2 linked regions of the Homo sapiens genome follow. The protein of the gene in region 1 interacts with the protein of each later gene in a pairwise test. Each region holds a gene or a part of one and is shown in the gene's direction. Other genes may lie near its edges. The genes, in order: ZBTB7A and ZMYND8.

What was found.
Region 2: the proteins of ZBTB7A (region 1) and ZMYND8 interact in a two-hybrid assay, tested with the Homo sapiens proteins (one large-scale study listed by BioGRID and IntAct).

What each region holds. Positions count from the first base shown.
Region 1 is NC_000019.10:4,049,628-4,053,437, reverse strand, and holds part of ZBTB7A (zinc finger and BTB domain-containing protein 7A), read left to right. Parts: intron 1-3,810. UniProt on the Homo sapiens protein: Transcription factor that represses the transcription of a wide range of genes involved in cell proliferation and differentiation.
Region 2 is NC_000020.11:47,238,002-47,241,811, reverse strand, and holds part of ZMYND8 (MYND-type zinc finger-containing chromatin reader ZMYND8), read left to right. Parts: intron 1-2,673; coding exon 2,674-3,054; intron 3,055-3,810. UniProt on the Homo sapiens protein: Chromatin reader that recognizes dual histone modifications such as histone H3.1 dimethylated at 'Lys-36' and histone H4 acetylated at 'Lys-16' (H3.1K36me2-H4K16ac) and histone H3 methylated at 'Lys-4' and histone H4 acetylated at 'Lys-14' (H3K4me1-H3K14ac).

The sequences.
Region 1 (3,810 bases):
TACATGCGCACACATACATGCACATGCATGCAAACATGCACCCACAGACACACATATATGCACACACACGCAAACAGACACACCCCACCTCTTGGGCCCAAAGCCAACGAACGCTTCCCTGACCCACGTGGCTGTTAAGAACAGCCTAGACCAGGCCCTGCCCTTGTGGGTGGACATCCCGGTGGGTGACAGCACAGGCCAGACATAAGATGACAGCCACATCATATGCAAAGCGTGCCGGACAGGGTTGAGCTGCGGGAGGTGGGCGGGAAGGCACAGTCGTTCTTCCTTCCTGGAGGGCTGGTTCTTCTCTTCTGCACTTTTGGATTTTTTTCTTTTTCTGCTTTGGGAGAGGGTGACAGGCCCTCAGGCTTAGGGAGGGACAGCCCAGGCCGTGGAGCGGCTTCTGAGTTTCCCGTGAGCCTGGGTCATTTGCTTCAATCAGCCAACATTTATGAAGCGTCTGCTGGTGCCAGGCCTGTTCTAGGCGCCGGGGACAGGCCTTGCCGGAACCTGAAGGAGGGGAGGAGCAGCTGTGGGAAAGGGCGTTCCAGGCAGAGGGAACAGCCAGTGCAGAGGCCCTGAGGCCAGCTCAGCTTGAGAGATCACTGTGCCCCCCTGGGAGCCACAGGACTTGGTCCCTAAACAGCAGGAGTTCAAGGCCAGGCCCGGGCAGTTTGCAATTCGGTCTCAGGAGTCCAGAGGTGGCTGGCTGGGCCTCGTAGATCCGGGGCGGGCTGTAGCGGTGGGGGCAGGGGGCTGGCAGGCAGGGACCTGGCCAGGCTGGGTGACTCAGCACCACCCCCTGCCCCCCGCCCGCCCTGGGGTTCCCCCAGCCACGCCCACCGAGGCTGAAGAAAGAGGCCATTGTCCCAGCTTCCCAACCCCACCCCGTGGGGACAGGAACTGGGACTGACCCCTCCCCAGCACCCCGGCCCCCTCCCCAGCAGGCCAGGAGAGGAAGGTGCGGCCTGGACTCCGGCGCCCAGGAGTGCCAGGCAGGGGGCAAAGGGCACTTTGGGAGGCAGGCAGTGTAGCTGGTGGTTTGTCCCTCCTTGGTGAGGTTGGGGTACTGGAGGTCTTGGGGGGCTCCTCTTCCTCCAGGCAGGGGTCACTGTGGGTTCGTCTCTGAGCTCAGGAAGAGCAGCTTGGTGGGGTGCAGAGAACTGGGGTCTGCAGAGGGGACCAGGCTGAGCGAAGGTGGTGACCCCCACCCTGCCTCCCTGGCCGCAGGCCACAGGCCCGGTTTCATTCTGACTCGGGCACTGCTGGCTATCCCACCCGACCCGGGGCTGATCCCCTCAGTCAGAGAAACTGAGGCTTAGAGAGGGACAATTGTGGAGACCTCTTCCTCCCACCCCAATTTAGACCCACCTGCTTCCTCTTTTCCCCCACCCCGTGCTCTGGTCCCCCCTCCCCAGGACACCAGCACCTCCACCCTCCAAAAGCCTGGGAGCCCGAGGCCCCTCTGAGTCACAGCAGGGCGTTGAGTAAGTGGGGCCTGTGGTGGCCGGGGCTATAATTACCCAGGCTGGGGCTCGGGGTGATGAAACTAGGGATACCTCCGCCCCCACCCCGCCTCTGCGTGGCCCTCTGGCCTGCTGTGCAGCTCCAGGCAAGTCCCTTCCTCTCTCTGGGCCTCCCAGGCTCATCTGGGGAGTCTCTGCACGGTTCTAGAAAAACCTAGTGGCTGCCATCCCCTCTGTGACCCCGGCCCTGTGCCAGATCTGGGCAAGGCAGCCCGGAGACCTTGCCGTGGGCTTTGCAGAAGGTGATCAGTAAACCAGAGGCCTGGAGGCTGGTAACAGACCTGGTTAGGCCAGGGTTCTGTTAGCAAGTTACCACGTTCTGTTGGCTTCAGTGGGGCAGCAAGGCTAGAGATAAGGTAGGGGTCTGGTTGCCAAGGGCCAGGCCTTGACCCTCAGGGCAACAGAGCCAAGGAGGGGTTAAAGTTAGGGACACCAGCTCTGTAGCTGGTGCCAGAGGGAGGGACTTAGGGCTGGAGGAACCCAGAGGGGAGCCAGGTCTTTGGGAATTAGGAAAGGTAGAGGGGCATTCAAGGTAGGGCTTTGAGGGATGAGTAGGAGTTTGCCAGTCCCCACACTAAAGAAGTCTTCAGTCTATTGAGTGTGAGAAGGAAGAAACCCGAGGTGGCTCAGATGTGGGGCACAACAGGCAGCAGCAAGGAGTAGGTCAGGTTCTAGCCAGGGCTCTTGAGACCCAGGGCTCCCTCCTGCCCTCCGGATCCCAGGAAGGAGTACACTTTATTACTATAGATTGGCATCACTCAATGGGAATAGGCAAGACACCTACTTTTTTTTTTTTTTTTTTTTTTTTTTTTGAGACGAGTCTTGCTCTGTCGCCCAGGCTGGAGTGCAGTGGCACGATCTCAGCTCACTGCAACCTCCACCTCCCAGGTTCAAGCGATTCTCCTGCCTCAGCTTCCCAAGTAGCTGGGATTATAGGCGCCCACCACCATGCCGGCTAATTTTTGTATTTTTAGTAGAGACGGGGTTTCACCACGTTGGCCAGGCTGGTCTCGAACTCCTGACCTCAGGTGATCTGCCCGCCTTAGCCTCCCAAAGCGCTGGGGTTACAGGTGTGAGCCACCATGCCCGGCCAGCAAGCCACTTACATATTTTTACATTTTCTGACAGCCCCGTTCAAAAAAAGTCAAAGAGAGTTGGTGAAAGTGACTTGAAACATTTTACCTAACCCAGTAGATGCATTTCCATGTGTAGTCAATGTGCACGATCCTCATTGAGCCATTTTACATCACCTTTTGCATATCAAGTCTTCAAAAGCTGGGGTACCTTTTGCACTTCCAGCGCACATCAGTTCAGAGTGGCCACATTCCAAGGGTTCAGGAGCCACCTAGGCCACAGGCACCCCACTGATATGGTGACCGGCTTTGTAGGCTAGAGGCTCCAGGCTAAGCTGGGTCCACGCTGCCCCCATGGGGCGAGACAGGCAGGGAGGGGCCCTCAAGTCACACCCAACCCCTGCCTTCTCGGGGCTCACAATCCAATCAGGGAGACAGAGGAGAAACAAGGAAATCAACAGAAACAAGAGAGACCGGCCGGGCGCGGTGGCTCACGCCTGTAATCCCAGCACTTTGGGAGGCCGAGGCAGGCGGATCACTTGAGGTCAGGAGTTCAAGACCAGCCCAGCCAACATGGTGAAAACCCTGTCTCCATTAAAAATACAAAAATCAGCCAGGTGTGGTGGCGCACGCCTGTAATCCCAGCGTTTGGGGAGGCCGAGGCGGGTGGATCACCTGAGGTCAGGAGTCCGAGACCAGCCCGGCCAACATGGTGAAACCCCGTCTCTACTAAAAATACAAAAATGAGCCAGGTGTGGTGGCAGAGGGCCTGTAATCCCAGCTACTTGGGAGGCTGAGGCAGAAGAATTGCTTGAACCCGGGAGACGGAAGTTGCAGTGAGCGGAGACCACACCACTGCGCTCAAGCCTGGAAGATAGAGCGAGACTCGGTCTCAGAAAAAAAAACAATAGAAGAGTCAGGTGGTGATGACAGGAGGATGGAGACAGGGCTGGGGAAGGAGGTGACATTTGAGCCCAAATTTGACTGTGAAGATCCAGGAGGAAAAAAGAAAGTACCCCGGACTGCGGGAGCAGCACATGCAAAGGCCCCAGCGTAGCTTGTGCTTTGCACCTTTGCACGTCAGGGTGGAGCCCAGATAGGGGAGTGACGCTGAAGTGAGGGGAGAGTGGGCAGTCCTGGGTGTCGTGGGGTGGGGACTTGGTTACTAGGGTGACCAACTGCCCCACTTTGTCCCGGACAGAGGGGTT
Region 2 (3,810 bases), on another chromosome or scaffold:
AAAGAGGCAGACATAATCCTTATTTAAAGGAGTTTGATGTCAGGGAGCATAGTCCAAGATCGGGGTGCTGGCTTGTACCTGGGTGTGGTGTGTGTTCCCCAGATATCCTCTCTGGGGCATAGGCTCACCTTACCGGGGGCTGAGGCCTGTGCATCCATAACTGAGCCACCTTTACAAATGAGCTCCCGTGTGGTCATCGCCTCTACGTGCTGCTCAGTGCTTCTGGCTCTAACCTCCCTTCCAGCCCCTCCTCCCTGCCTGCCCTCACTTACTCAAATGCTCTGTATTCCTAGACATATCTTGGCTGATGCTGTTCCCTCCAGATTCTCACTTTCCGCCTGTTGAAATCCTACCCTTTATTCCCCACCAGCCCAGCTCCTCCAAGATGACATACTCCATATGGCAGCGTTTTTCAAACTTGAGTCATTCACATTCATTGTCTTTCCCGTTCTCAAGTCCTGCTTGTATAATTTTTGACTTTTTTTATTTAAAGAATCTTTTTTTTTTTTTTTTTTTTGAGACGGAGTCTCGCCCTGTCACCCAGGCTGGAGTGCAATGGGGCGATTTCGGCTCACTGCAACCTCTGCCTCATGGGTTCAAGCGATTCTCCTGCCTCAGCCTCCCAAGTAGCTGGGATTATAGGCACACACCACCATGCCCGGCTAATTTTTTGTATCTTTAGTAGAGATGGGGTTTCACCATGTTGGCCAGACTGGTTTCGAACTCCTGACTTCGTGATCTGCCCGCCTCGGCCTCCCAAAGTGCTGGGATTACAGGCGTGAGCCACTGCACCCGGCCAAGAATCTCATTCTTTAAAAATAAAATTAAGCTCATTTAAAGCGGGACACAGTAGCACGTCCCGTGTAGTCCCAGCTATTCGGGAGGCTGAAGTGGCTTGCTTGAGCCCAGCCGGGGTGATATAGCAAAACTCTATCTCTTTAAAACATAAAATAAAATAGGCCGGGCACGTTGGCTCACGCCTGTAATTCCAGCACTTTAGGAGGCCAAGGCGGATGGATCATGAGGTCAGGAGTTCAAGACCAGCCTGGGCAAGATGGCGAAACCCCGTCTCTGCTGAAAATAAAAAAAATTAGCTGGGTGCGGTGGCAGGCGCCTGTAATCCCACGTAGTCGGGAGGCTGAGGCAGGAGAATCGCTTGAACTCAGAGGGCGGAGGTTGCAGTGAGCCAAGTTTGTGCCACTGCACTCCACCCTGGGTGACAGAGTGAGAATCCATCTCAATAAATAAATAAAATAAACTCATTTTATTTACTTTTCATTTATTATTATTATTATTTTGAGACGGAGTCTCACCCTGTCACCCAGGCTGGAGTGCAATGGCATGGTCTCGGCTCCCTGCAACCTCCACGTCCCGGGTTCAAGCGATTCTTCTGCCTCAGCCTCTTGAGTAGCTGGGACTACAGGCGCCTGCCACCGCACCCGGCTATTTTTGTATTTTCGGTAGAGACGGGGTTTCACTATGTTGGCCAGGCTGCTCTTGAACTCCTGACCACAAGTGATCCGCCCACCTCAGCCTCCTAAAGTGTTGGGATTACAGGCGTGAGCCACTGCGCCCGGCCTATTAGTAATATTTTTTGAGACGGAGTCTCACTCACTCTTTCTCACAGACCGGAGTGCAGTGGCGCGATCTCGGCTCACTGCAACTTCCGCCTCCTGGGTTCAAGGAATTCTCCTGCCTCAGTTTCCCACCACGTCTGGCTAATTTTTTTGTATTTTTAATAGAGACGGGGTTTCCCCATGTTGGTCAGGCTGGTCTCAAAATCCTGACCTCAAGTGATCCGCCTGCCTCAGCCTCCCGAAGTGCTGGGATTACAGGCGTGAGCCACCGTGCTTGGCCTCATTTTTTTAGTAAAAAAATTTCCCCTGAAAAAAGCATCTGCAAGTATAAACTCATTTTAGACTTGAACACCACCCAATAAGAACAGTAGCACACAGTATACATAAAAGCTGGTGATAGGAATAAATCCAATCAAAACCAAAGCAATGCTACTCAATCCTAGATCAGTACCATTGCGTTGGGGGAAGGTTCTGGCCTTGGGGCAGAATTTGTTTTCCTGGTATTGTCCTGGCTATCAGTACCGCCTTCAAACTTTGTCCTGGAGGGAATCAGAAGAGATGAAAAGAATACTTTTCTTTCTGGGTGACTGAGTGTTACTGCTTTGGCCATTGGGAGGCCATCTGGCTCTTTGGAGGTATTGCTTTCTACGTTCCCTAGCCAAAGAATTGCTCTTCCTGTCTGGATTGACTTCCGCTGGGCCCTTCTCAAGGTGCCGACTAGATTTTAACTTTGCGAAAAGGGCGTGAACATTGAATCTGTTCGCCCACCGCATTGTCCACTAGGTGTAGGGGAGCTTGAGCGCAGGAGCCGGGTCTTGTTTGCCTCATTCTCCCCTAGAGGTCTTGACTTGTATCTCAGATGTGGGCCGGCGCTCAGTAAAGGAGGCCGCTGCTCGCGGAGATGGAAGACGCCGCAGAAGTGGCCTCAGCGTTAGGTGAGAATGTACTCCTCCAGCGCGGTGTGCTTGGCACGTCGAATTGGTTCGGCATTCCTGGCTTTCATAGGTTTTACCCAGAACTTGGTGGCGTCAAGACCGTGCAGGTGAACCTGAGTGAAATCCGGTTTTTGTTTGTTTTTTCTTCATGCATTGGCTAGTTGTAGGTAAAACTCCACCATCCACGACGGTGGGCAGCCATTCTCCCCCGGAAACACCGGTGCTCACCCGCTCTTCCGCCCAAACTTCCGCGGCTGGCGCCACAGCCACCACCAGCACGTCCTCCACGGTCACCGTCACGGCCCCGGCCCCCGCCGCCACAGGAAGCCCAGTGAAAAAGCAGAGGCCGCTTTTACCGAAGGAGACTGCCCCGGCCGTGCAGCGGGTCGTGTGGAACTCATCAAGTAAGTTTCAAACGTCCTCCCAAAAGTGGCACATGCAGAAGATGCAGCGTCAGCAGCAGCAGCAGCAGCAGCAAAACCAGCAGCAGCAGCCTCAGTCTTCCCAGGGGACGAGATATCAGACCAGACAGGCTGTGAAAGGTACCGAGCCTCCCCTTCTGTTCTCCGTGGCGCCCGCTCCCATTTTGCCACATCGACAGGAGAAAGTCATTGCTCTTTTATTTTTTTTTTTTAGTTCTCGTTTGTTTCCGGGCCATTGTATCTTGAAGGCCTTGCACATTCCATTTGGCATTATTTTTAAAAATTGTTTTGCTACTTGCTTTTTTACTTTCAAAAAGTTTTTTTTGTTCATTTTATAAATGATACATGCATATATTCTCCTTAAAAAGGGGGCAGAAAGTTTTACATAAAAGTCTGTTATCCCGTTTACCTTCCATTTCATTCTCTTCCCTTCCACAGTGGCCAGTATCAACCGTTGTAAAAGCTTTTCTATGCATGTATGCATGTATATGTATATATACATATCTGTATGTATATATGTGCGCATCATGTATATGATGCCATAAAATTAGTCCTTTTTCCCCCCTTTTTTTCTTTTTTAAAACATAAAAATGGTACCATACTTGCTTTTTTCCCCCACCCATCAGCATGTTTTGGAGGTCCATCCACATCAGCACATACAGCCCTGCCTTGTTCTTTTGGACTGCTGCATAGTATTTCATAGTTTATTTAAAGCATTCCTCTACTAATGGGCATTTAGGTTGCTTTCAGTTTTTTTTCTACTGTGAGCAGTGCTGCAATGAATATCTTTGTATAAATTTCCTTGTGCACATGAGGGAACCTCTTGGAGTTATTTTGGAAAAAGTACAGTGCGAGAAGTTGATAGCGAAGGTTACC